Homo sapiens: one gene and its partners. The protein of the gene in region 3 interacts with the protein of the main gene of each other region in a pairwise test. Each region holds a gene or a part of one and is shown on either strand. Other genes may lie near its edges.

Region 1 (3,047 bases), on a different chromosome or scaffold from region 3:
TTGGAGGCTGCAGTGAGCCATGATCATGCCACTGCACTGGGCAACAGATTAAGACTCTGTCACAAAAAAAAAAGCGTTAAGTTAAGGAGCGTGAATAAAAATAATACATTTCATATTCTAAGACAATATCATCTACAACTTTATTCCAATATAAATTACTAAAACTTTACCATATAAGTAGTAGAAAGCCTGAATAGATAAAAGCTATGGAAGAAAAATTAAAGATAGTGATAGATTTATCACCAAGCTCAGATGGTTCTGCAAACAAATTCTAAGAAACCGTCAGGGAACAGATCATTACTGCGTTGACACAGAAGGCAAACCTCTCAACTTGGTGTATAAGGCTAGTTAACATTGTTACTAAAACAGGCAAAGAATGGCCCCCAAAATAACTCTAAACCAGTATCACCTACAAATACAAAAACTCTATATAAAATATTAGCAAGTGAGTACAAGAGTATAAGGAACTCTATTAATGTAATTCACTGTGCTAGGTTAAGATAAAACCATAACTCTTCAGATATCATAGCTCTTTAGATAGAAAAATGTAAAAGTATTTGATAAAAATTCAACAACATTCCTGACTAAAACAAATTAAAATTGTAAAACCCCTGGAAAGCCAGGAGTAAAACATGTTCTCCATAATCTATAGCAAACATCATAGTTGCTGATAAACCATTAGAAGCATTTCCTTCAAAGTTAGGAATAAAACAAGAATTGCTACTATTGCTACTATTATTTAATCCCATATTGGAGGTTTTAGCCAACACACTATGGCAAGAAGAGGAAATGAGAAAGGTTAATGCTGCAAAAGAAGAAATAAATAAAGCTACCATTGCTGATATAATTATCTATCCAAAAAAAGTAGAAATCCATGATTAAAAGCTATTTGAACTGATAAAAGTTCAGAAAATTGGAATTGTTTCAATATACTAAAATCAATTAGTTTTCTGCACATCAGTGGGGATATATTAGATGTAATGAAAATGAAGGGTCCATTCACAATAGAAGCTATAAAGTATTTGAGAATAAATCTAACAAGATCTACATAAAGAAAAAAGTAAACTGCTTAAAAGTAATTTAAGTTCACCATTTGCAAATTGAACTAAAGAAAAATCTAAAGAAGAACTAGTGAAAATTGCTTGCAATCTTACCACTGAAAAGAAACCTCTGTTAAAATGTATCAGTATTTTAAAACTGTGTTTTGTCCTTTGGAAATATGCCATATTAAGCAAACATAGCATAAGCAAATTAAGCAAAAAGACAAACCTTTTTTTAAAAGCATATTTGTGAAAAAAGCATATTTGAAGCTATGATAAGAAACTGAGTAGAAGCTATAAAACGTAGATTCATCAGGAAGGAGCAGAAGTTGAAAAGGAGATTTCTGGCTGGGCACAGTGGCTCATGCCTGTAATCCCAGCACTTTGGGAGGCCAAGGCGGGTGGATCACTTGAGGTCAGGAGTTTGAGACAAGCCTGGCCAACATGGTGAAACCCTATCTCTACTAAAAATACAAAAATTAGAAAGGCGTGGTGGTGAGCACCTATCATCCCAGCTACTCAGGAGGCTGAGGCAGGAGAATAGCTTGATCCCGGGAGGCATAGGTTGTAGTGAGCCGACGTCATGCCACTGCACTCCAGCCTGGATGACAGAGCAAGACTCCATCTCAAAAAAAAAAAAAAAGAAAAGAAAAGAAAAGGAGATTTCTGAGTAGAAACACGTTAGCAGAGGAAACTTCATTTGGGGAACAGGATTGTTTTGATGCCATGCTCCCTCAGCTGACCACACAGATTACATCCTGGCCAGAAAAAGGCCCTGCAAAGAGCTCTGATCATTTTGGTTCTGATTCCATCCTTAGTTCTTACCCATTATCTGCTTACCCTTCCTCCCCACCTATTTAAGATACAAAGCAAAACAAACCAAAAATACAGATGAGTTGCTTGGTAGAGCTGCCTAGGCCTCCAAGGCGGGGCCCAGAGGATTTTTTGACTGAACCCCCTGTTGTGTTTTCCATATGTGCTTCCCCAGACCGCCCAGGTTTGCTGAATGTGAAGCCCATTGAAGACATTCAAGACAACCTGCTACAAGCCCTGGAGCTCCAGCTGAAGCTGAACCACCCTGAGTCCTCACAGCTGTTTGCCAAGCTGCTCCAGAAAATGACAGACCTCAGACAGATTGTCACGGAACACGTGCAGCTACTGCAGGTGATCAAGAAGACGGAGACAGACATGAGTCTTCACCCGCTCCTGCAGGAGATCTACAAGGACTTGTACTAGCAGAGAGTCCTGAGCCACTGCCAACATTTCCCTTCTTCCAGTTGCACTATTCTGAGGGAAAATCTGACACCTAAGAAATTTACTGTGAAAAAGCATTTTAAAAAGAAAAGGTTTTAGAATATGATCTATTTTATGCATATTGTTTATAAAGACACATTTACAATTTACTTTTAATATTAAAAATTACCATATTATGAAATTGCTGATAGTATTTGAAGACTGAGTCTTGTGTGTTTCCCACCCTAGCCCCCAGGCTTTCTTTTTTACCCCTTTTCCTTCTCCCCTCCCTCCCTCCATCCCTCTCACTCTTCCTCCCTCCCTTCCCTCCTTTCCTTCTTCCTTTATTTTTCTTTTCTTTCTTAGACATTTTAAAATATGTGAGTGGAACTGCTGATACACTTTCATTCTCAGTAAATTAATTTTTTACTCAATTTACAACTTTTCGGAACTCTGCATCTGCTTTAACAATCAGAACTAAGAAGGGAAGGGGAACTTCAGAATCAGAAACTGCTCAGAGCATGTGTTTTGTAGCCTGGATGTGCTGATATGCAGCATATCCCTGGGATTACCCAGAATTCAGTCTTCTTCCACAATCCTAACCGAGATTTTCACGCACCACCAGCAGCCTACTCGTATACTACCTACTAATCAATGCCACTGCGCACCCACAGAGCCAGTGGCCAGCAACTGAGCACTGCTAGAAACTCTGGGGAACACAGAACTTTTTTAAGATTTGGTATCTGCGCCAGGCATGGTGTCTCAAGCCTTTAA
Region 2 (7,272 bases), on a different chromosome or scaffold from region 3:
TGTTCTGGGAAGCAAAGCAGGATGTGTGGGCCTGGAGTGAAGTTTGTTCCATTTCTCGCCATAGGCCATGGTATGATTACAGCTGTGCCTAGTGCTGCCTAGTTTTACTTTCATGCCTGATTTGCAATGTGGCAGGGTCCTGAGATGAGAGCTCTGTGTGGGCCAGTAGAGTCAAGAGACTTTGTCCTGGTCACTTGGCTACTTGCAGGGGGTTCTGGAAAGTCAAGTTCTCTGAATCTCAGTTGCCTTTAATATAAAAGGAAAGCTATAGTTTCGGGTCGGATTGATTCACATGGTTTTGGTCGGGAGTGAATGAAATTAATGTAAATTAAAACACATTATGAGTAGCAAAGTGCTATGCAATCTAAAAATAATAACATTTTAATCACTCTTATCATCATATGTGCCAGGCACTGTTCTAAGCTGTCTACAAATAGTAACTCATTTAGTTGAATGCTCACAACCACCTTATGAGAGAGCTACTGTTAATATCACCACTTTACTGATGGGGAAACTGAGGCACAGAGAGGTTAAGTAACTTGTGGAAGGTCACACAACCAGCAAGTGGTACAATCAGGGTTTGAACCAGTCAATGAGGAGTCAGCATTTGTTATTGTTCCTATTCCTATAGCATAGCTGGGAAGGGAATGCAATGCTGGTTTGGAGAACACATCAAGCAGGCCTCCTGTCATCCACTGAGTGAGATGAGATGATGGCCATACATTGCGGCACAGCCAGCTATCCATGGTCTGCAGCAACAGATCAGTCTTGCAGGGACATGGATAGCTCCGCTAGTGAACATTCACATGTTCAACGAATAGCTAGAGTAAATAGTTGGATCTCATTTAGAGGCATGCTCTGGCATTCCTCTTTCACGTCATTTGCTTTCCAGGCCCACTCCAGGATGAGAGTACTGAGGTGCCATAAAAGACCAACAGGCAAGATGTTGGAGGGTTCAGGAGCTGCCAAGGTTGTGTTCATGCTGACCTGTTGGCATAGCGTACAGCAGTGCCAGCTGCTCTGCTAAACCGAGGAGCTGAGATGCTGTGTTGATTTCTACATGTTCCAGGCAAATACTTCCTGAGGATTGTCAGGATTTACATAATGGATTGGCCCTGGGACCACTGAGCCAGCATCTATCTTTGACAGGTGTACTGAGAGATGACCTTTAAACCTAGGGATGTTCTCCAGATGCAGTTCCAGCTGGGCCAGTAAGATCTGCATGTTTATGGTGCTGTTTTTTCTTTTCTTCCCAGGCAGCCGGGATTGCTTACCACCTGCAGCGTGCTTTCGGAGGCGGCGGCTGGCACGGAGGCCGGGCTACATGAGAAGCTCGACAGGGCCTGGGATCGGGTTCCTTTCCCCAGCAGTGGGCACACTGTTCCGGTTCCCAGGAGGGGTGTCTGGCGAGGAGTCCCACCACTCGGAGTCCAGGGCCAGACAGTGTGGCCTTGACTCGAGAGGCCTCTTGGTCCGGAGCCCTGTTTCCAAGAGTGCAGCAGCCCCTACTGTGACCTCTGTGAGAGGAACCTCGGCGCACTTTGGGATTCAGCTCAGAGGTGGCACCAGATTGCCTGACAGGCTTAGCTGGCCGTGTGGCCCTGGGAGTGCTGGGTGGCAGCAAGAGTTTGCAGCCATGGATAGTTCTGAGACCCTGGACGCCAGCTGGGAGGCAGCCTGCAGCGATGGAGCAAGGCGTGTCCGGGCAGCAGGCTCTCTGCCATCAGCAGAGTTGAGTAGCAACAGCTGCAGCCCTGGCTGTGGCCCTGAGGTCCCCCCAACCCCTCCTGGCTCTCACAGTGCCTTTACCTCAAGCTTTAGCTTTATTCGGCTCTCGCTTGGCTCTGCCGGGGAACGTGGAGAAGCAGAAGGCTGCCCACCATCCAGAGAGGCTGAGTCCCATTGCCAGAGCCCCCAGGAGATGGGAGCCAAAGCTGCCAGCTTGGACGGGCCTCACGAGGACCCGCGATGTCTCTCTCGGCCCTTCAGTCTCTTGGCTACACGGGTCTCTGCAGACTTGGCCCAGGCCGCAAGGAACAGCTCCAGGCCAGAGCGTGACATGCATTCTTTACCAGACATGGACCCTGGCTCCTCCAGTTCTCTGGATCCCTCACTGGCTGGCTGTGGTGGTGATGGGAGCAGCGGCTCAGGGGATGCCCACTCTTGGGACACCCTGCTCAGGAAATGGGAGCCAGTGCTGCGGGACTGCCTGCTGAGAAACCGGAGGCAGATGGAGGTCAGTGTCTCTTCCACCTCTGTGGCCCGAGATTGTCGTGAGCTCAGATTAGCACTGGGCAGACGGCAGGAAACGAGGGGTTCTGGGCTCAACTGACTTCCTCCTGGAAGCTGCAGCAGCTCCTTTTGGAGCCGGCTGCACAGGATGTTGCTGCACTTCTGTCTCTTTGAATTGGACACAGATCTACTCTCCTTTTTGTCTTCTCTGTCACTTAGGTGCTCAGATTTGCTCTCCATTGGGCCGCAGGCTCCTCTGCAGGCCCCGGCTTAGGTGAGACGTGGTTCATGCAGCCCAGCTCTGCTTTGAGACAGGAAACTGGGGGCAGGGGAGATTGAGCTGGGTGATGTTTGGAAGGACTTGAGAGATACAAAAATGGGGATGCCCTCTATCAGGGCGATCCTGCTCTTCATCCGCTTCACTCATTCCCTTCCATCCTGCTGCAGTGGCTGCTGCCTTCCACAGGGTCGGGAGACTTCGCTTCTGGTCATTGAACCTCTTTGGCTCTCAGTTTCCGTATTTAGAGATAACACCAACTCATAGGATTGTTCTAAGGCTCAAATGAGAATGTAGCTGCTTTGGAAATAAGTACAAACTGGAGACATCTAAGGCCCAGCCTTATGATGATGCTGTCCATCCAGTTATCTGAGAGGTGGGTATAGCCGGAAGTAGGTAGGGTTCCTCTACCCACAAAAGTTCCCAGAGAAGCCCAGGTAGAGATGCTCTGTGGCTCATCTGTTGCCAGACTGTATTTTAATCCTGGTGTGTGTGTGCATATGTGTTTGTGTGTGTATGTGTGTGCATGTAGGTGTGCCTGTGTGTGCGTGTGTGTGTGTGCATGTTTGTGCTGTGTGTTCATGTGTGTGTGTGCATGCATGTGCGAGTGTATTTGTGTGTGTGCACTCATGTGTTTCTGCGTGTGGTGTGTGGATATGTTCATGTGGGTAGGGAAGTGGAGCACCCACTCATCAGGCATTTGGGAGGAGTAATCTGCAGAAGTTCATGCTCATTCCCCGAAAGAGCATCTCCCATCTGTTCTTTATCTATAGTCTGATGTTTCTAGCCCTGTCCCTGTTTGCCCTGTTTCAGCCCTCAGGGACCTCAGCCCAGCCCTCTGATTTATTATGCAGAGAGGGAGTGAGGTCAGAGCACAGATGCAGGCTTGTATTCTGGGTGATGTGTGGAGTCTTCCAGTTAGTCATTGCCTAAACCAGTGCCCCTTGTCTTTCCCCGAAACCCGTTCTGAAGGGCCTCCAATATTGGTTGATTTGAATGCATAGAATCTATCCAGTTTCTTAGGCCAGAAACCACAACCATCTTCCACACCTCCCTCTCCCTTGTTCCACATCTGGCTGGCCTCCAAGCCCTCTCAGTCCTACTGCTAATCTGTCTCTCATCACCATGGCCGCTGCCCTGGCTCAGATCCTTGTTATCTTTCACCTGGGTTTTGCAAGAGGGTCTACCTTCCTGCGGTGTTTCTCTTCTCCAGTTAATTAAACTAAATGTGATCATATGTGCAAAGTGCTTCAGACAGGGCCTGGCATCTAGCAAGTACCCAGAAATTAACCATTGTCATCATTAGAGAAATAGCTCCAATTTAGAGAGTTTGAGTCAAAAGCAAATGAAGCTCTCCCTTCTGTCCATAGCTCAAATTAAATTCCTATCTTATCTCAAATGGTAGAATCTGGACACACTTTTTCTTTAGTGTAAGTATTGTTGTCTATGGCAGTCCCACAGCTGGGCAGGGAAAAACATGACACTCTCTTCAATTACACTCATGTACTGCATAATGACATTTTGGCCAATGACGGATCACATATATGATGTGACAGTGGTCCTGTGAGATTATCGTACTGTGTTTTTGTTGTACCCTTTCTATGTTCAGATATGTTTAGATACAACAATACCTTACCATTGTGTGACACTTGTCTGCAGTATTCAGTACAGTCACATGCTGCACAGGTTTGTAGCCAAGGAGCAATAGACTATTCCATCTAGCCTAGGTGTGTAATGGGCTACACCATCCAGATTTGTGTAAGCACACTCTACGATGTTCACACAATGATGAAGTCACCTAATAATGCATTTCTCAGAATGCATCCCTGTCATTAAGTAACGCTAGGCTGTACTTGAGTATCTGTTGTGTGACAGCGGAATTAACAGAGTAGTGGGAATGACAGAAATAACACAGTCCAGGGCATAGGACTTACAGGAAGGCAGAGTTTGCCTCAATAGGAGGAAGAACCTCTTGACAGTGGGAATTGTCTGTGATGAGGTGGGCTGGTCAGGGACTTGTTTTCCCATGGTGCTTACACAGAGGCCCCAGACTGCTCACTGGGGTTGCGGCTGAGGCCTTCGGGACAGGGCAGAAGGTCGGTGAAGGATCTCCAAAAAGATCCTTTGAAAGAGTAGGATTTCTAGTGTTTGGGGGCCTTATTGATATTATATTTTAATTCCTTAACCTCCTCTCGCTTCTACTTAAGTAAAAATGAGAATCTCAGGAATTTAAGTTTCAGCTTCTTCTAAAAGATGGTTGATCCTCAGTGTTTGTGGATTCTATATGTGTGAATTCGTCTACTTGCTAAAATTTGTTGTTAACTCCAAAATCAGTACTCACAGCACTTTTATGGTCATTTTTCATTTTTATTTTATTTTTTAAGAGACGGGGTCTCTGTCTTCCAGGCTGGGGTGCAGTGGTGTGATCATAACTCACTGCAACCTTGAACTCCTGGGCTCAAGCGATTCTCTTGCCTCAGCCTCCCTAGTGGCTGGGACTACAGGCGCATGCCACCATGCCTGGCTAATTTTTTTTTTTTTTTTTTTTTGGGTAGAGATGAGGGTCTTGCCACGTTGCCCAAACTGGTCTTGAACTCTTGGCCTCAAATGATCCTCCTGCCTCAGCCTCCAAGGTACTGGGATTACAGGCATGAGCCACCATGCCTGGTGGTAATTTTGAACCTGCACAGAGTGGCAAAATATTTGGGTCACCTGATGTACACGCTTTCTACTTAGGTCAAACAAGTTCAGACCAGATGACATTCTACCTTCTCTCTCATACTACAAACTAGTATCCTTTTTGTGGTCTATTTAATGCCATCTTTTTTTACATTTTTGTGCTCTTTATTGGTGAGTTAACCATTGCAAAAGCTCCCTAAGCATAGTGCTAATGTCATCTAGTGCTCCTAAGCATGAGAAGGCTGTGATGGGCCTGATGGAGAAGATACAGGTGCTCCAGAAACTTTATTCAGGCATGAGTTAGAGTGCTGTTGGCCAGAGTACAATGCTTATGGATCAATAATACATATTAAATAAGATGTTTTTAAACAGAAACACACATAGAACAAGGTCATGTGTTGACCGATGGAGGAAGGTGTTGTGACCAGGGGTTCACAGGAACCTACCCTGTATTTCTCTTAGGAGCAATGCTTCATTATTCCCTAATTCAGTATTCACAGAAACTTTATAGAACATAACTACAGTACTGTGAATAAGGAGAATCGACTGTGAATATTTTATGCTGTTTAGAAATCGCTGCTTAGCGAGATTTCCAGGGGTTGCATGGGACTGAGAAGATGGTAATAAAGGTAGTTGGTGACCAGGCATGCAGAGGAGGGGAAGTGGAGTGGGCCCTGCAAGGTAGGCTCCACCTAAGGCCATGGAAACTGGTGAAAAATGAAGGACTCTGCCTGTAGAGTATTATAGGACGTTCCACAGGCAGGGTTGTGGCACAGTGCAAGACATGGCCACTGGGGCTGTGCCTCCAGCAAAGACGGGTATTCAGACATATCTCAGGGCAGTCCATTCAGGGCCTTATAGAGATCACTGGACGAGGTGGGCATCGTGGGGTGGGCTTTGGCTGTAAATGAATTTTTTTCCTGACCTTGTTTCCTGCATTTCTTCAGCTTCTGTTCTAATAAATGTTTAATGATACCATCATTTGGGTGTGGCGATGGTAATGCTATAGCTTTATGTGGCCCTCAAACCATTCACACAGCCTTTCTTCTGTCCCTAATATATAGGACTAAGTTACTGGTAAACTTTGCAGTTGTAATATAGAACAATTCAAAGACAAAGGGGTTAATATGATTATTCATTCATTCTTTCATTCATTCAGAAAGCATTTATCAATGACAACGAGTACAATGCCTTATCCTAGGCTTTGGAGATTGTATTAGGACAGGCTAGTAACAGGCACTACGTTAGAGGCTCAACACAACAAAATTGTGTTTTTTGCGTATGCTTCATGTTCCACAGAGATTTTTGGGGGGCAAGAACCCAGCCTGCACCATCTGAACATATGATCCCCTTAGTCACAGACTTGAGGAAGAGAATGTTAGGGAGTCCTACAAGAGCGATCAAATGCTTCAGCGTAGAGGTAACCCCATCACTGCCACTCATACCCTGTTCAGCAGAACAAGGAGAGAGGCACTTGTACTCTTTCCATGTGCCCAAAGCAGTGGAAAATCAAGTCAGTGTAAGTACTAGCATCCTATACATGGATGCAAAATAGTTCTTGCCCCCCAGATGCTCAAGGTTGAATGATGTGCACAGATAAAACCAAACAAAGGAAAATGATGGCTATAACCTGGTGCAATAAGTACTCCATTCTTCCAGTGGGTCAGAAAAAAAAACCCAAAAAACAAAAAACAAAACAAACCTTGGCATCATCCTGGTGCATTTTCCTCAGACCCCACCTGTGATGTATTAGCAAATCCTGTTGGCTCTATATTTAACCAGCGGTCTTCTGAATATAACCGGAATCAGATCACATCTCACCATCTTCACCATTGCCACCATCCTCACTATCATCCAAGCTCCTGTCATCTCCTTCCTGAATGTTCCCATAGCCTCTTACCTGGCCTCCCTTCTTCTGCTCTTACTAACAGCAGCCAGAGTGAAACTGTTTAAAACATAAGTCAGATCATGTGCTCCTCTGCCCCAAACTCTCCAGTGGCGCCCCATGAACTTCAGAGTAAAATCAGAACTTTTAAATGGTCTTCATGTCTCTTCTTGACACAGTCCTCATTACCTGTGTGACC
Region 3 (7,272 bases):
TAATTTTTTAAGTTTTTATTTTTGTAGAGACAGGGTCTCACTATCTTGGCCAGGCTGGTCTCAAACTCCTGGCCTCAAATGATCCTCCCGCCTTGGCCTCTCAAAGTGCTGGCATCACAGGCATGAGCCACCATGCCCAGCTCAGTTTTTTTCCTCTTTAAATAAGGATAATATCACCCTTGTGATATTGCTGGAGAAAAATCGAGATGACACCCGCTGAGCCCTCGGCATGGTTCTCAGCATCTAACGAGTTGCTCAAAAGGCCATGAGCTTCCACCCCTTCTCACCTCGTATGAATTCTGTTGGCGGGTGCTGGAAGGCCGGGCTATGGAAGTGGATGTCCATGGCCTGCTGAGCCTCGTGTATCATCTCAAGGAAGGGCTGGAACATGGCGTGGAAGTTCAGGGGCTCGTACGGAGAGAAGGGCATCAAGCTGCGGACGATGCGGGACTTGGGAAAGAAGAAGTGAGGCCTCCGGTGGGGCAGGCTGAAGGGCAGGTAGTGGTAGGTATCCTGGGGCTCCCGGGTGAAGAACCTGTCCTGGAAGAGCTCGTCTATGATGCTGGACGCGCGGCTGAAGTGGTCCTGCATGACATCCAGCATGTGCGTCTGCTGCCGGTCGTTCTCCAGCAGGGAGTCGATGCGGTCACCATTCATCCAGAAGTAGAAGGGCGAGCTCTGGTTCAGGAACTCCTCAAGCTGGGACAGCCAGCATGGGCACAGTTAGGAGAAGCTCACCAAGGCCACGGCCTCCTGGCCTCCCACCCCCTGGTGAGCCAGGCCAGGCCCTGCCCATGGCTGTAACAGTCACACAGCAAGTGACCAACAGCCCAGCTGGGACCAGCCCCCAGCACCCCATCTGTCAGGTCCATGCTCTTTCCTTTTATCTCCCTCCATGGGGGACAGTTTTGAGACACCTGGGAGGCCCCAAAAGTCACAAGGCCCAACATTTCAGGTTCATTCACTGTCATCTTTGGCCACCAATGATATCCACCCCCGCTCGGCTAAGGGCCAACTGATGTGACTTCAGGGATTGGAGCAATTCACTGAGTCCCAATCAAAAAAGCCCTGCAGCAGAGGACAGGAGCAACACTAATATACTACAAAATCTTACATTGGCTGGGCATAGTGGCACACATCTATAATCCCAACAATTTGGGAGGCCAAGGTAGGAGGATTACTTGAGCTTAGGAGTTTGAGACCAGCCTGGGCAACATGGCCAAACCCCATGTTTACAAAAAAAAAATACAAAAATTAGCTGGGTGTGGTGGTACGTGCCTGTAGTCCCAGCTACTTGGGAGGCTGAGGTGGGAGGATCACCTGAACCCAGGAGGTCGAAGCTGCAGTGAAACATGATCACATCACTGTACTCCAGCCTGGGTGACAGAGTGAGACCCTGTCTCAAAAAAAAAAAAAAATTCTTAAATCCTTCCACATAAGTGGACACAGGGCTCTGCCATCCCACGAAGCAGTTTATTATGTCATCCAGCTAAGCACTGCTGCATGAGTTTTCTAAGAGAAGGCAGATACCTGGCCTACATCCTTTTGATGACTCCACTCTCTCTACTCATGCCAGACATTACCAATGGAGCATGGCACTCTGGGCAAGCCAGCCAATGCTAATCAATTGCATCTGGCATGCGGAATGAAGCATATTTCACTAGGCTCCCCTCCTTCCCCACTCAGAGCCTTGGCCACTCATGTGTCCCCTTTTCACCTGGCGGCCAACCAGGCCTGAGCCACTTCTGCAGACGCGTGCGTAGAACTTCATGCAGGTCTGTTTCAGGCAGGGCTTACACTCTTCCCAGAGGGCCATCATGGTCTCATTGCACACTCCTGGGAGCTCCTTCAGCTTTGTCTCTGATTCCCTGGTCTCATTTAGGGCATCCTACAGGAAGACACAAGGCTGGCTGAGCCACACAGAGACCACAGGCTCATGCACTCAAAGAGCTGCTGGGTGCCAGGCCCTCTGCCCCAGGGCAGGCCTTCCCATAGGCTGGCCACCCAGCATGCAAGTGCCTACCCTTGCTCCAGTTCAAGCTTCCCCTCATTCGCCCACCTGGAATCCCCTTCCCACCTGGCTTAAAGAATCCACTCATCCTTCAAGATCCAACTGTTCCCTAACTCCTAGAAGCTTCCCAACTCCTGGAACCCATGTGGACACCACCTCTCTCTCTGATCACCTACTCAATGACTACCCTCTCACTGAAGCCTCATTTCCTATTCTCTGCTTCTGGTGTTTAAATTTCATCTTCCAAAGCAGGCTGCAGACTCCCTGAATCTTACCTTTCTATTGCAACCATGCCTCCTGGCGTGCAAAGGGAATGGCAGGCATTCAGCACCAAAGCCACACCAGCTATCAAAATTCTCTAACGGGCCCTTGCCACTTGACCCAATAATTCTGTAAGAATCTGTCTCAGGCCAGGTGCGGCAGCTGACACCTGTAATCCCAGCACTTTGGGAGGCCGAGGCAGGCATATTACTTGGGGTCAGGAGTTTGAGACCAGCCTGGCTAACATGGTGAAACTCCATCTCTACTAAAAATACAAAAATTAGCTGGTGTGGTGGTGCACACCTGCACTCCCAGCTACTTGGGATGCTGAGGCAGGAGAATCGCTTGAACCTGGGAGGCGGAGGTTGTAGTGAACCAAGATCAAACCACTGCACTCCAGCCTGGGTGACAGAGCAAGACTCTGTCTCAAAAAAACAAAACAAAACAAAACAAAACAAAACAAAGACTCTATCTCAAAGGAATCCCCTGACAAAGAAAAAGATACTTAAAAATATTTGAAACAGTATTAGCTTATGGCAAAAAAAAAAAAATCAGAACCAACCCAGATGCTTAAAAGAGACAGATTAAACAAACTATGGTTCATATAAAGGGTAGATGGTACATCATTACAAAGGATGTTTATAGTCCATTTTGAATATTATATGTTAAAAATTCATAATTTTAAATATAGCCACTGTCAAAAAAGCATAGAAGAAAATAATAGGAAAAATAGATCAAATGTTAACAGTGACTTGTCCTTGGGCAAAAGGATTATGGAAAAACTTTTCCTTTTCTACTTTTCTATATTAAAGTCTCTATGAATGAGTGTGTTAGTCTTCAAAAAAAAAAAAATAGCCTATCCACACCCCAGAGTTAGGTGAGGTCTTTGTCCTGCTCCATCATCCCCTGTCCCCTGCTGGGCAAGGACAACCCACCTCCCACTGAGCCAAGACACAAGCGCCACCCCTGCTACCTACTTCCTTGCCTTCTGGCTCACCTACTCCTCAACTAAGAAGTAGCAGGCTCTTTTCTCCAAATGTATGTGATGTGCTTTATTATAAAACCAGAATTGTTGAATGTCAAACTCCAGTGATAACCACAAAAATGTGAGAACAAGTCATGCCCCTTCCCCAGGAGCTATTTGAGGATTCTCATAGAATGGTGAGAACTGATACTAAGGCCAAGAAAGGGCATGAAACTTGAAAAAAAGGTAGAGCCACATCCAGGCCAGCAATCCCTGAAGTGGCTCCTATGGAGCTGTGCTCAAAGCGGCCAGGAAAAAAAAACAAAAACAAAAATGAATTCCCTGGTCAGTTTGGAAAACTCTGGGTTTCATGGAGTTACACAGGTTTCTTTACGGCAGAACTTCTCAGAGCCTTTGAAATGCTTTTAACATGCACGATGGATCATGAAGCTTGCAGGTAGCTACATCTTAGCATCTGAAGTAGGGCGACCGTGAGAGGAGGTTTGTAGGATACTCTTAAGGAGACTTGATTTCTTAAATAAGTTGTTCATTGAATTATAGTGTTTTAGTTTTGTTGAATCATTAAGCACAGGCTAGACCTGCTATATCCACTACTGGGCTTAAGATGTTTCTTTATGAAGTAGTCCAGAACTCTAGCAAGACGTGGGGTGCTGTGTGCCTGCCTTAACCCTAACCATATCACCCCTATTAGATAAGCTTCCTGAAGGTTGGACGCCACGCCTGTCTGGGCCCCTGCCGCCACCCCATCCAGAGCCTGCTTGGAACTAGCATGTGATCAGGGCTTAGAAACATCTATTGAAATGAATCTGGGCATTAGGCCCTGGGCCAGGCTCATAACAAAACCAGATCCAAGATCTCACTCCCTGATGCTTTCAGAAGCAAATGAACCTTCCCTGCTTCTTAATTGCAGCCTCAGCATCAGCTGACACAGCCTGGGAGGACTGCGGGTCACCATGGCAACCCAGCAGGGCACCGCGCAGTGACCCCCTCCCTCCCCTCCAGTGGGATGGTCAAGGCAGGGAGGCGGTAGCGGCTCCTCCTGACCTCTTTCTTCTTCTTGGCTTCTTCTAGGTTGCTGAGCAGTGTCTTGCGCTCTTCGTTTGTTTTTTCTATGAGAGTCTTTATCTGTTTCACCCCGTTGACAGCATTTTGAATTTCCTTATTGACGTACTTACTTCCCTGATTGGACATTTCTGCAAGAGAAGTGCAAGAGGCAGAATGAGGCGAGAGGAAGAGGTGGCCTCAGGACCCTGGAATGAGCTGGATGGCCAGAAAGGCCCGTTCAGTTCAGGGGCTGTCAAGGCTGGGACCCCCACTCCTGCCAGCAGGCAGCAGCATGGCCCCAGCCTTGCCCTGGCACAGGCTCCCATCACAGGCTCCTTGCTGACTGCACCCTACTGCTTAGAAATGCAGACCATGGGAGCCGGCACACCCAGAGTTATGCCCAGCCACTGCCATGTGCCCCTGGAGAATGAGCTGGGTGCAGAAGAAACTTGGCAAGGAAAAAAAAAAACCCAGAAGTGTCAGCTTTGCAGCATCAAAATATAAAATATTGTTATTTTGGACACAAATCTTTCTAGAGTTCAGTTTAAACAGATATGTGTATTTCTTTGTTCCAATGCAGTGCCAGGCGACAGGAATAAGAAGATGAGTAAATGAGTAAGGTATAGCACTGGTGACAAATGCAGCGAAACACTGTGTCACCTAAGTGCTACTTCACTGGTGTTTATCCCATGCCAAGCACTGCGCCAAACACTTCATGTGCAGTTTACATAATGCTCCAGCCCCCCGCCGTGCCCACTTCGCAGAGGGAGACATGGGAAGTGTGATATGATAAAGGGTCAAAGTGTTCATCAGGTAGGAGGAGTATGTTCTGGAGGTCTAACATACAGGTGGTGCTTATAGTTAATAACACCATATCATAACTGGAAATTTGCTAAGAAAGTAGATTTTAAGTCTTCCCACCGTCCCACCATAAAAAGTGGTCATCATTTCAATGTATGTGCATTTCAAAACATCACGTCATATACCTTAAATATACACAATTTTTATTTGTTAATTATATCTCAATAAAATGGGGGGTGGGGGGAGTGTCATGAGATCAAGATAGTGGCCCAAAGTCACCCAGCTGAGAAGAGGTGAAACAGACTCACACCCATGTCTGATCTGGGTTTTTAACAATGATCCTGCAGAAACCGTCAGCTCACAGGAGGGATAAGCTCTGGGCACTCCAAAGGGGAGAGGGATAAGAGCTCCGGTGGTCCAGACACAGCTTCGTGGAGGAGGCCTGGGAGCTGGGCTAAGGGGCCTGGGAGGGGAAGAGCTGAATGAAATGCAACAGCCGAAAGTGCTTGGGAAATGCCTGCAAATGCCGGCAGTCTGATGCACGCAGAGCCTGAACCAGGGGCCTCGGAGCTGAGGCTCAGAGTGGGCCCAGACACAGGCACCCAGACCCAGTGCACAAGATAAAAACGGTCTGTAACACTGGGGCCTGATAGAGAGGCACTGAGCAGAATTAGCTACCCTGCCCTCTGACCTCATCACCCTGTGGCCAGAGGAACATCATGCTTGGTCTACTCACCCTGGAGCTCATTGTCTGAGACCGTCTGGTCCCCCAGGACCTGCCCACTCTCCCAGGTCAGCAGCAGCCCCACAAACAGCAGCAGAGTCTTCATCATGCCTCCAATTCTGGAGTCTTTGCACGCCTCTGCAGAGAACAGGAGACCATCATGGGAACAGCTAGACAGCCTGCTGGCGTCCCGCCCACCTGCTGCCTGCAGCAGCTCCCCAGGGCCTCACTGCCCTCAGCTGTCCCCACAGCAGGCACTGCTGCACTTTTATTCCTGAGGAAATGGGGGGAAATGACCAGACTTGCCATGGACACCTCGAATGAAAGCGAAGGCAGGAGGTGCAGGGAGGGAGGGACTGCAGGACAGCAATGTTGAGTGGAAGAAACAAGAACCCTGGCATCGGAGGAACCAGGCTCTTGTCCAAGCCACATCCTCCCCGACAATCAGCGAGGCACACAGGCTTTCTGCATCCTGGCCTCCTTGTCCAGAGTGGTATCGATCATGTCAGACACTGAAAATACCCCCCTTAGGTCATGCATCCGTCCCTCCCCATGCCACCTCCACAGAGGGACTGCATCCCAGAGACCAGCCACGTCCTCTGCAATGTGCACCTAAACCTTCACCCCAGCAGACGCTCCCCATTCACCACAGCGCTGCAGCCCCCAGGGAGTCTCAGCACCACCTGAACTTGACTTTCAAGAGCCGGAGGCAACAGCAGCCAGCCCTTCACACCGAATCCATCTGCATCCCTAGTGGGAGACTTGGGCCGGGCTGCCTGTGCATTCAGGGGTGGAAGTAGTGGAAGCCAGGAAGGACAATTCCCTTCGGAGAGTAGAGAGGGTTCGCAGTGGCCCGAGGAGCAGGCTTCCCAGAGAAAGTCCCTTTGGAAGGATGAGTCCTCTTGCTCTGCCAGGCCCTCCACACTGCCCATCCCCTCTAAGCCGACAGCAGGCTGCCCTGCCAGTGTTCCTGCCACCACTGGGCTGGCTGCCCTGAGCCACGGGGCACAGGCCATAGCCCCGGTCTTACACAATGGACCCTTTCCCAGAAGCTGAGGCTGTTGCATAAAACAGAAACCCCTCCCCCTGCACTCCACCCCCACCATGCCCCTCCCAAGAACTGCTTATCTGAGCTCACCCATTTGCCATCACAGAACCAACAGGACGATGGGGTTCCCCTTCCTGAAATGGTTCACATCCAAAGCCCGCTCAGCCCAGCAGGCCCATCTGGACACTCAGTAGCACATTAACAAGGAGTGCCTCTCATGAGAAGTAATCAGGCGCAAAGAGCCAGGGAGCAGCGTGGGAGAAGAGATGGGGTCAGCGCCTTCCCCAGAGATGGGGTAGGGGGCGGAGACCGGGCTCACCAGGAAGGCTGTGGTCTCACGGGCTCTGCCCCAGCTGCCCACTGAGCCCTGAAATGCCTCCAGCAGGAACAGAGCCTTT
Region 4 (5,074 bases), on a different chromosome or scaffold from region 3:
TATGTCTCTAAACACATTTTAAAACCTCCAAAAACTGATTATTTAGATCATTTTATACAAAATTTTATCAAGACAAGTTTAGTCTGCAGAGTTACTTGTATAAGAACAATGTTAGATCCCTATTTTAGGCTGGGTGTGGTGGCTCACGCCTGTAATCCCAGCACTTTGGGAGGCTGAGGTGGGAGGATCGCTTGAGCAAGACCAGCCTGGGCAACATAGTGAGACCTGGCCACTAAAATAAAAAATAAAAGAACAATGTTAGATTGCTATTTTAGATGTGTAACTAATGCTCCAGCATTGTCTCCCACTACTACCTAGTAACTTTCTGAATATTGAGCAAAGTATATACACACTAGGGGATGGAAATTAATCTAAATTGTGTGTCTTATAATGTTGCAACATCATGCCTGTTTATGAGCTTAAAACCTTCTTAGGCATCTCCATCTGAGTAGCTACTTTAAATTTTTAGCAGAATCCAGTTGCCCATCAATTATTAAAGTGCAGTTCATGAAAATACAAGGGTGCTTAGATAGATATATATTCCAGACGTAAAAAAATCTTATGGTTGCTAAAGAAATATAATACTTTAAGAGATTTTAAAGTAATTATTTCCTGAATGTCTTTTTTCCCAAACATTAGACCAAGTTGCATTGTTTACAAAAATTTATTCATACAAATTTTACACACTTTATATAACAGTTATCAAAGTCCTAGTTATAGATATCATGTGTGTAATAATACTTGGTTAAGGTGTTTTTATAATCAGTTGCACACAAAATAAGAGCTTCAAGACTAACATCTACCTAAATTATCACTATATCATAAATCTGCTTCAGTTTAGTAAGGCTCTTGGCATTTCTAAAAAGTATACAAAAGATTAAACTGGGTGATCACTGTAAAATGCTTGCAACTAGCCACGGGAACACTAAATTAGACTTCATAAATAAAAGGTTAACTAGAGCCCTATTTCACCACTAACAGCTGATACAAATACAGAAAACTCTGCCCATTATCCAAGAAACAAATAATTAAGACTAAAATGCAAGCTGATGTGTTGCAGCATTGTAGGGCCACTAAATAGCCATCTGTGATTCGTGGCAATTTAAAAGGCGAAGAAAGGCACTAAAGCTGCAAACTGCATCCCGTGTCACATTGCCTGAGGAGACTGCGGAATTAAAGGAAGATTGATCCTATACACAGGACTCAGGCATAGACCGAATGCCTCTGTTTTCACTATTTGCAATGTGATCTCCTGGCAGCATCCATCCCGCCTGGGAATGCAAATCCAATTCTGTTTTCTTTGATTTATGACTTCATACTGATCAAATCCGTAAAGGAAAAGGAAAGGTCCTTTAAACTTTACAAGCTAACGTTTAATCTTTCCTTGTTCTTTTTTTTTTCTTCTTCTTCATCTTCTTTTTTCAAAACATAAAAAAATAAATAAATAAACTTGTGCCTGAAATTTGGGAGATTGGCTGGCTGGTTTGTCTGTTGCTGCTCGATCTGATTGCTGGGTGAAGGTTCTTTTGTTTATAAAGATTACTCTGTATGTTCAAAGAATTGACAGGAAACAGACATGCTTTCTTTAGCCAAAGAAAGGATACAAGCGTAGGTTCTCAGGGTCTGTTGGAGCTTGCTTACCTCACTCTTGACCACAGATATAAGATAGTACTCATACATATGAAGAAGAGGATTAAATGATTTATCAGTTAGCAAAACTGAGCAACATGTGAACACTACACATTCTAATATGACAAAGGTTGGTTTTATGAAATAAATTTTACTAAGCAATAAGCAATAATGTAGAAAAATACATTTTACCTACAAACTCAATAAACAAGAAACAAAGGGTTCATATTTAGTGCATAATTACTTACTAGTGGCTACAGAGGGGTTTCTAAAATTTACAATAAGTGCCTGCATCAAACAAAAAAAAAAAGTGAGAAGCATTCACAAGTTTAAGAGAAGTGAATGAAAAATGGTAAACAGTACTTAAACAGTGCAGGAGGGTAGGAAGGAGAGGTCTCCATAAAACCACAAAGGAAAAGGGTAGCTCCTACAGAGCAGGTTTCAAAGGAGAGGATCCTGGCCATTTCACAAGATGAGAAGCATGGACAGCACTGGAGAAAAACACATTGTACTTTGCATCCATTTCCAATACCCAGCGCCCAAAGTCAGGACCATTGGGACTGGATTTGCCCTCAGCTTCCCAGACCTGGGGCAATCTCAAACCAGTCCATTTCCAGGGTCCTCCTCCTACCACCTCAGGCTCTGCCTCTTCCAATATACCTCTATGTCCTTCACTTTGTTCCAATTGCCCTAATTTGGGGATATTAGATTCCCTGGCCACTCAGGAAGTACAGAAAAGAGAGCGGTCTAACGAAGCCGCCCTTTTCTGTACAGTTCCTCAACTCTTCTCCTAGGGAGAGGCGTGAATTCTGGGGAGAAGCACAATTTGGATCGAGCTGTTGTTTTATCAGGAGAATTTTCTTCTGGGCTGAGAGTCTGAAGAGAGACAACTACACATAAAAGGAGAATCAAAGAAAGCAGAAATATTGGAATTGCCACCCAACCAGGGGGACAGAGCCCAGTTGAGTTAGGCTGGGATTGAAGCAGCCTGCCCCAGAGACTCACTGGGAAAGAATGCCCTTCAGCAATTCTCCATATCTTTACCTCAAAATCTCCCTGGAGCAGGGCATCATTGTTTATGTACAGTAGCAAATGGTAAGTAGTAATATCTTCAGGCCTGTCATGGATAAAAATACTATCCTTTTAATTCCAGTTTACAAAAATAGGAGTAATATTCAAAACAATGATTGTCTACTTTTCTATTTATTTTTATAAAAACATAAACAGCTCGGGCGAATTTTCAATCCTTGTGCACGCTTTGTATGAACTTCTCTCTATACTTTATATATATATATATATATATATATATATATATTCTTTATATATATTTATAATATATATCAATAATTGGTCCACAAAGTATATCTGTGCATTCTCTAGTGCTTTGTAGAAAGAAAAACAATATTATTATCAAAATATTCATTTAATGGCTTTACTTCATTACATAAATACATGTTTGGATAGAACACACGAGCGATGACTGTTGAGTCAGTTTGGAAAACGACTTTTCATTGCGTCAGGGCTGTATACACAGGGTAGCTGGTAACCCATCGCTACAAATAAGCTATTCGGCGTCCTTTGTTTTTAACCCTTTGTTTATACCTCTTCCCTAGGACGGCCGCCAAGTATTTCTTGACAGCCATTTGTTTCCGGTAGCGGCTGTAGCTGTCCGTGAAGATCCCGTCCGAGTGGCGCTTGGAGAGCGGCTCCGCGTCGTCCCCCGCGCCGCCGCCGAGGCTCCCACTGCAAGCAAAGGGGTCGGGAAGAGGGTGGCGGGGCGGGAGACACAGGTTCAATCGCCGCGGGGAGCAGGCGGGCCCCACCCCACGCGGGAGCCTTCGGGGAGGGCCCGGGGCTCGCACTGCCCACCGCGTCGCCCGCCTCTGCCTGGAAGCAGCCGTGGGGAGGGCCGAGACGGCAGCCCCTCGATGCCCCCCTCCCCACGCAGGATCTCCTGGCACCAAACCCTGCGGAGGGGGCCCGGGATAAGATCCGGGCAGGCGACGCGCGCTTCAAGCCTAACCTTTCTCCCAGCGCTGCCCCCTTGAGATCCGACCCTTCGTGTGTTTGCGCTAAATTGTCCTCGCTGTTCCTCTCACCCGCGACATACAGAGAAAGTAACCGGAGAGCCCTACATATGCCAGTCTGGCTGCTGCCCTGGAGTTTGCATCGATCCTGCAATTCCTAGTCAAATATGAACACTCCTCTCCCTCCTCACGCCGAGTTGAAAAACGTGATAATAATATAAGTCGACAGGCTGTAGGCAATATTTTTCACTGCATGACTTATTCATGGCGAAAATGTAATCTGTTTTCCCACGGGCTTTATTAGAATGTTGCCTTCTGCCGAGATAGGCTTCACACAAGCCCTGTGCTCTCAGTTTCTCTGGCGTGAGCAAAACTGTTTGGGTCCATAAGTGTCCACATTTGGCCATTTATTATTTCGATTTGAATTTTCAGTAAATACAACCACCCCTTTCCCCTCCCCCAGAAACAGTCATGCTTAGAGAAAATTATAGCAAAACCTCCCTGGAAGCCTGAAGGTTTTGGATGACTGAGAGGTTTGGTTTGGTTTCTCTTTCTTTTCATTCAAAACGGATCAAACTCCCTGGCTCGCGTTCCCTTTTTGCCTCTTCCAGAGCTCTCTGGGCAAATTTAAAGTGCCACTTCAAAATCTCCAACTGCGACCCGTGGCGGATGCCCACCCCAGACCCAGGGGCGCAGACTCACCCTGGCCCCCACGGGCACCCACCGCCGCCCGCCCCGCGCGCCCCGCACAGGCACCCACCCCGGCGCGCGCAGGTTAATCCTTCCACAAACTCTTACCCCACGCCCCGGGCCACGAGCGACTGCAGGTGCTTCCCGGCGGACAGCTGGTCCAGCACTTTGCGGTAGGCCTCGTTAAGGATCCCGTGGGCGACATCTCTAACGGGGAGGCAAAGTGCGCGCCCAGGGTCACTGTTTCTGTCCCCAGGTGGCCGCTAGAGACCCCCTTGTTGGGCGCGCGCCCCCTCGGCGGCCGGGGAGGCTGACAGGGAAACCTCCAGAGGCCCAGAACTCGCCAATAACTCCCGGGATGATCTCGAGAGCAACTGCTAGGATCGGGAGCTAGTCCCGGCTCTAGGAGTGGCAGATGCGGAGTGTGGGTTCCTTGACGCCACTCACTGCCACTCTTTGGGCCACAGCCCCCCTCGGTCCCCACGCGGCCCTCAGGTCCACACAGACCCGCCCGCTGCTGATTTTCTGTCGCTGCAATAGGATCGGGCCAGGGAGAGGACAGGCTTGAGGACTTTCACGGGAAAAAAAAAAAAATCCTGGGTGGGTCACCACACTGCCCCTCCCGTCACCGCAGTCCCGAGCTCCCAGCCGCGGGTGTGCGCGAGGCCGCGCGAATCTCACCTTCTCCCGGCCGGGCGGTACCAGGCGGCGGCGGCGCGCGGCGCGGA

Evidence for each region.
Region 1: the proteins of CLU (region 3) and PPARG interact in binary tests that used the Homo sapiens proteins (3 or more experiments, as listed by UniProt).
Region 2: the proteins of CLU (region 3) and DISC1 interact in binary tests that used the Homo sapiens proteins (3 or more experiments, as listed by UniProt).
Region 4: the proteins of CLU (region 3) and ADCYAP1 interact in binary tests that used the Homo sapiens proteins (3 or more experiments, as listed by UniProt).

The regions. Positions count from the first base shown.
Region 1 is NC_000003.12:12,431,870-12,434,916, forward strand, and holds the end of PPARG (peroxisome proliferator-activated receptor gamma), read left to right. Parts: intron 1-2,028; coding exon 2,029-2,276; 3' UTR 2,277-2,475; downstream 2,476-3,047. UniProt on the Homo sapiens protein: Nuclear receptor that binds peroxisome proliferators such as hypolipidemic drugs and fatty acids.
Region 2 is NC_000001.11:231,692,570-231,699,841, forward strand, and holds part of DISC1 (disrupted in schizophrenia 1 protein), read left to right. Parts: intron 1-1,256; coding exon 1,257-2,236; intron 2,237-7,272. UniProt on the Homo sapiens protein: Involved in the regulation of multiple aspects of embryonic and adult neurogenesis. Required for neural progenitor proliferation in the ventrical/subventrical zone during embryonic brain development and in the adult dentate gyrus of the hippocampus.
Region 3 is NC_000008.11:27,604,637-27,611,908, forward strand, and holds part of CLU (clusterin isoform 1 preproprotein), read right to left. Parts: intron 7,116-7,272; exon of another isoform or gene 6,965-7,115; intron 6,736-6,964; exon of another isoform or gene 6,510-6,735; intron 6,116-6,509; exon of another isoform or gene 5,965-6,115; 5' UTR 5,936-5,964; coding exon 5,839-5,935; intron 4,451-5,838; coding exon 4,302-4,450; intron 1,889-4,301; coding exon 1,718-1,888; intron 700-1,717; coding exon 288-699; intron 1-287.
Region 4 is NC_000018.10:907,744-912,817, reverse strand, and holds the end of ADCYAP1 (pituitary adenylate cyclase-activating polypeptide preproprotein), read right to left. Parts: coding exon 5,028-5,074; intron 4,554-5,027; coding exon 4,455-4,553; intron 4,274-4,454; coding exon of another isoform or gene 4,228-4,273; exon of another isoform or gene 3,386-4,227; intron 3,373-3,385; coding exon 3,183-3,372; 3' UTR 646-3,182; downstream 1-645. UniProt on the Homo sapiens protein: PACAP is a neuropeptide involved in diverse array of physiological processes through activating the PACAP subfamily of class B1 G protein-coupled receptors: VIP receptor 1 (VIPR1), VIP receptor 2 (VIPR2), and PACAP type I receptor (ADCYAP1R1).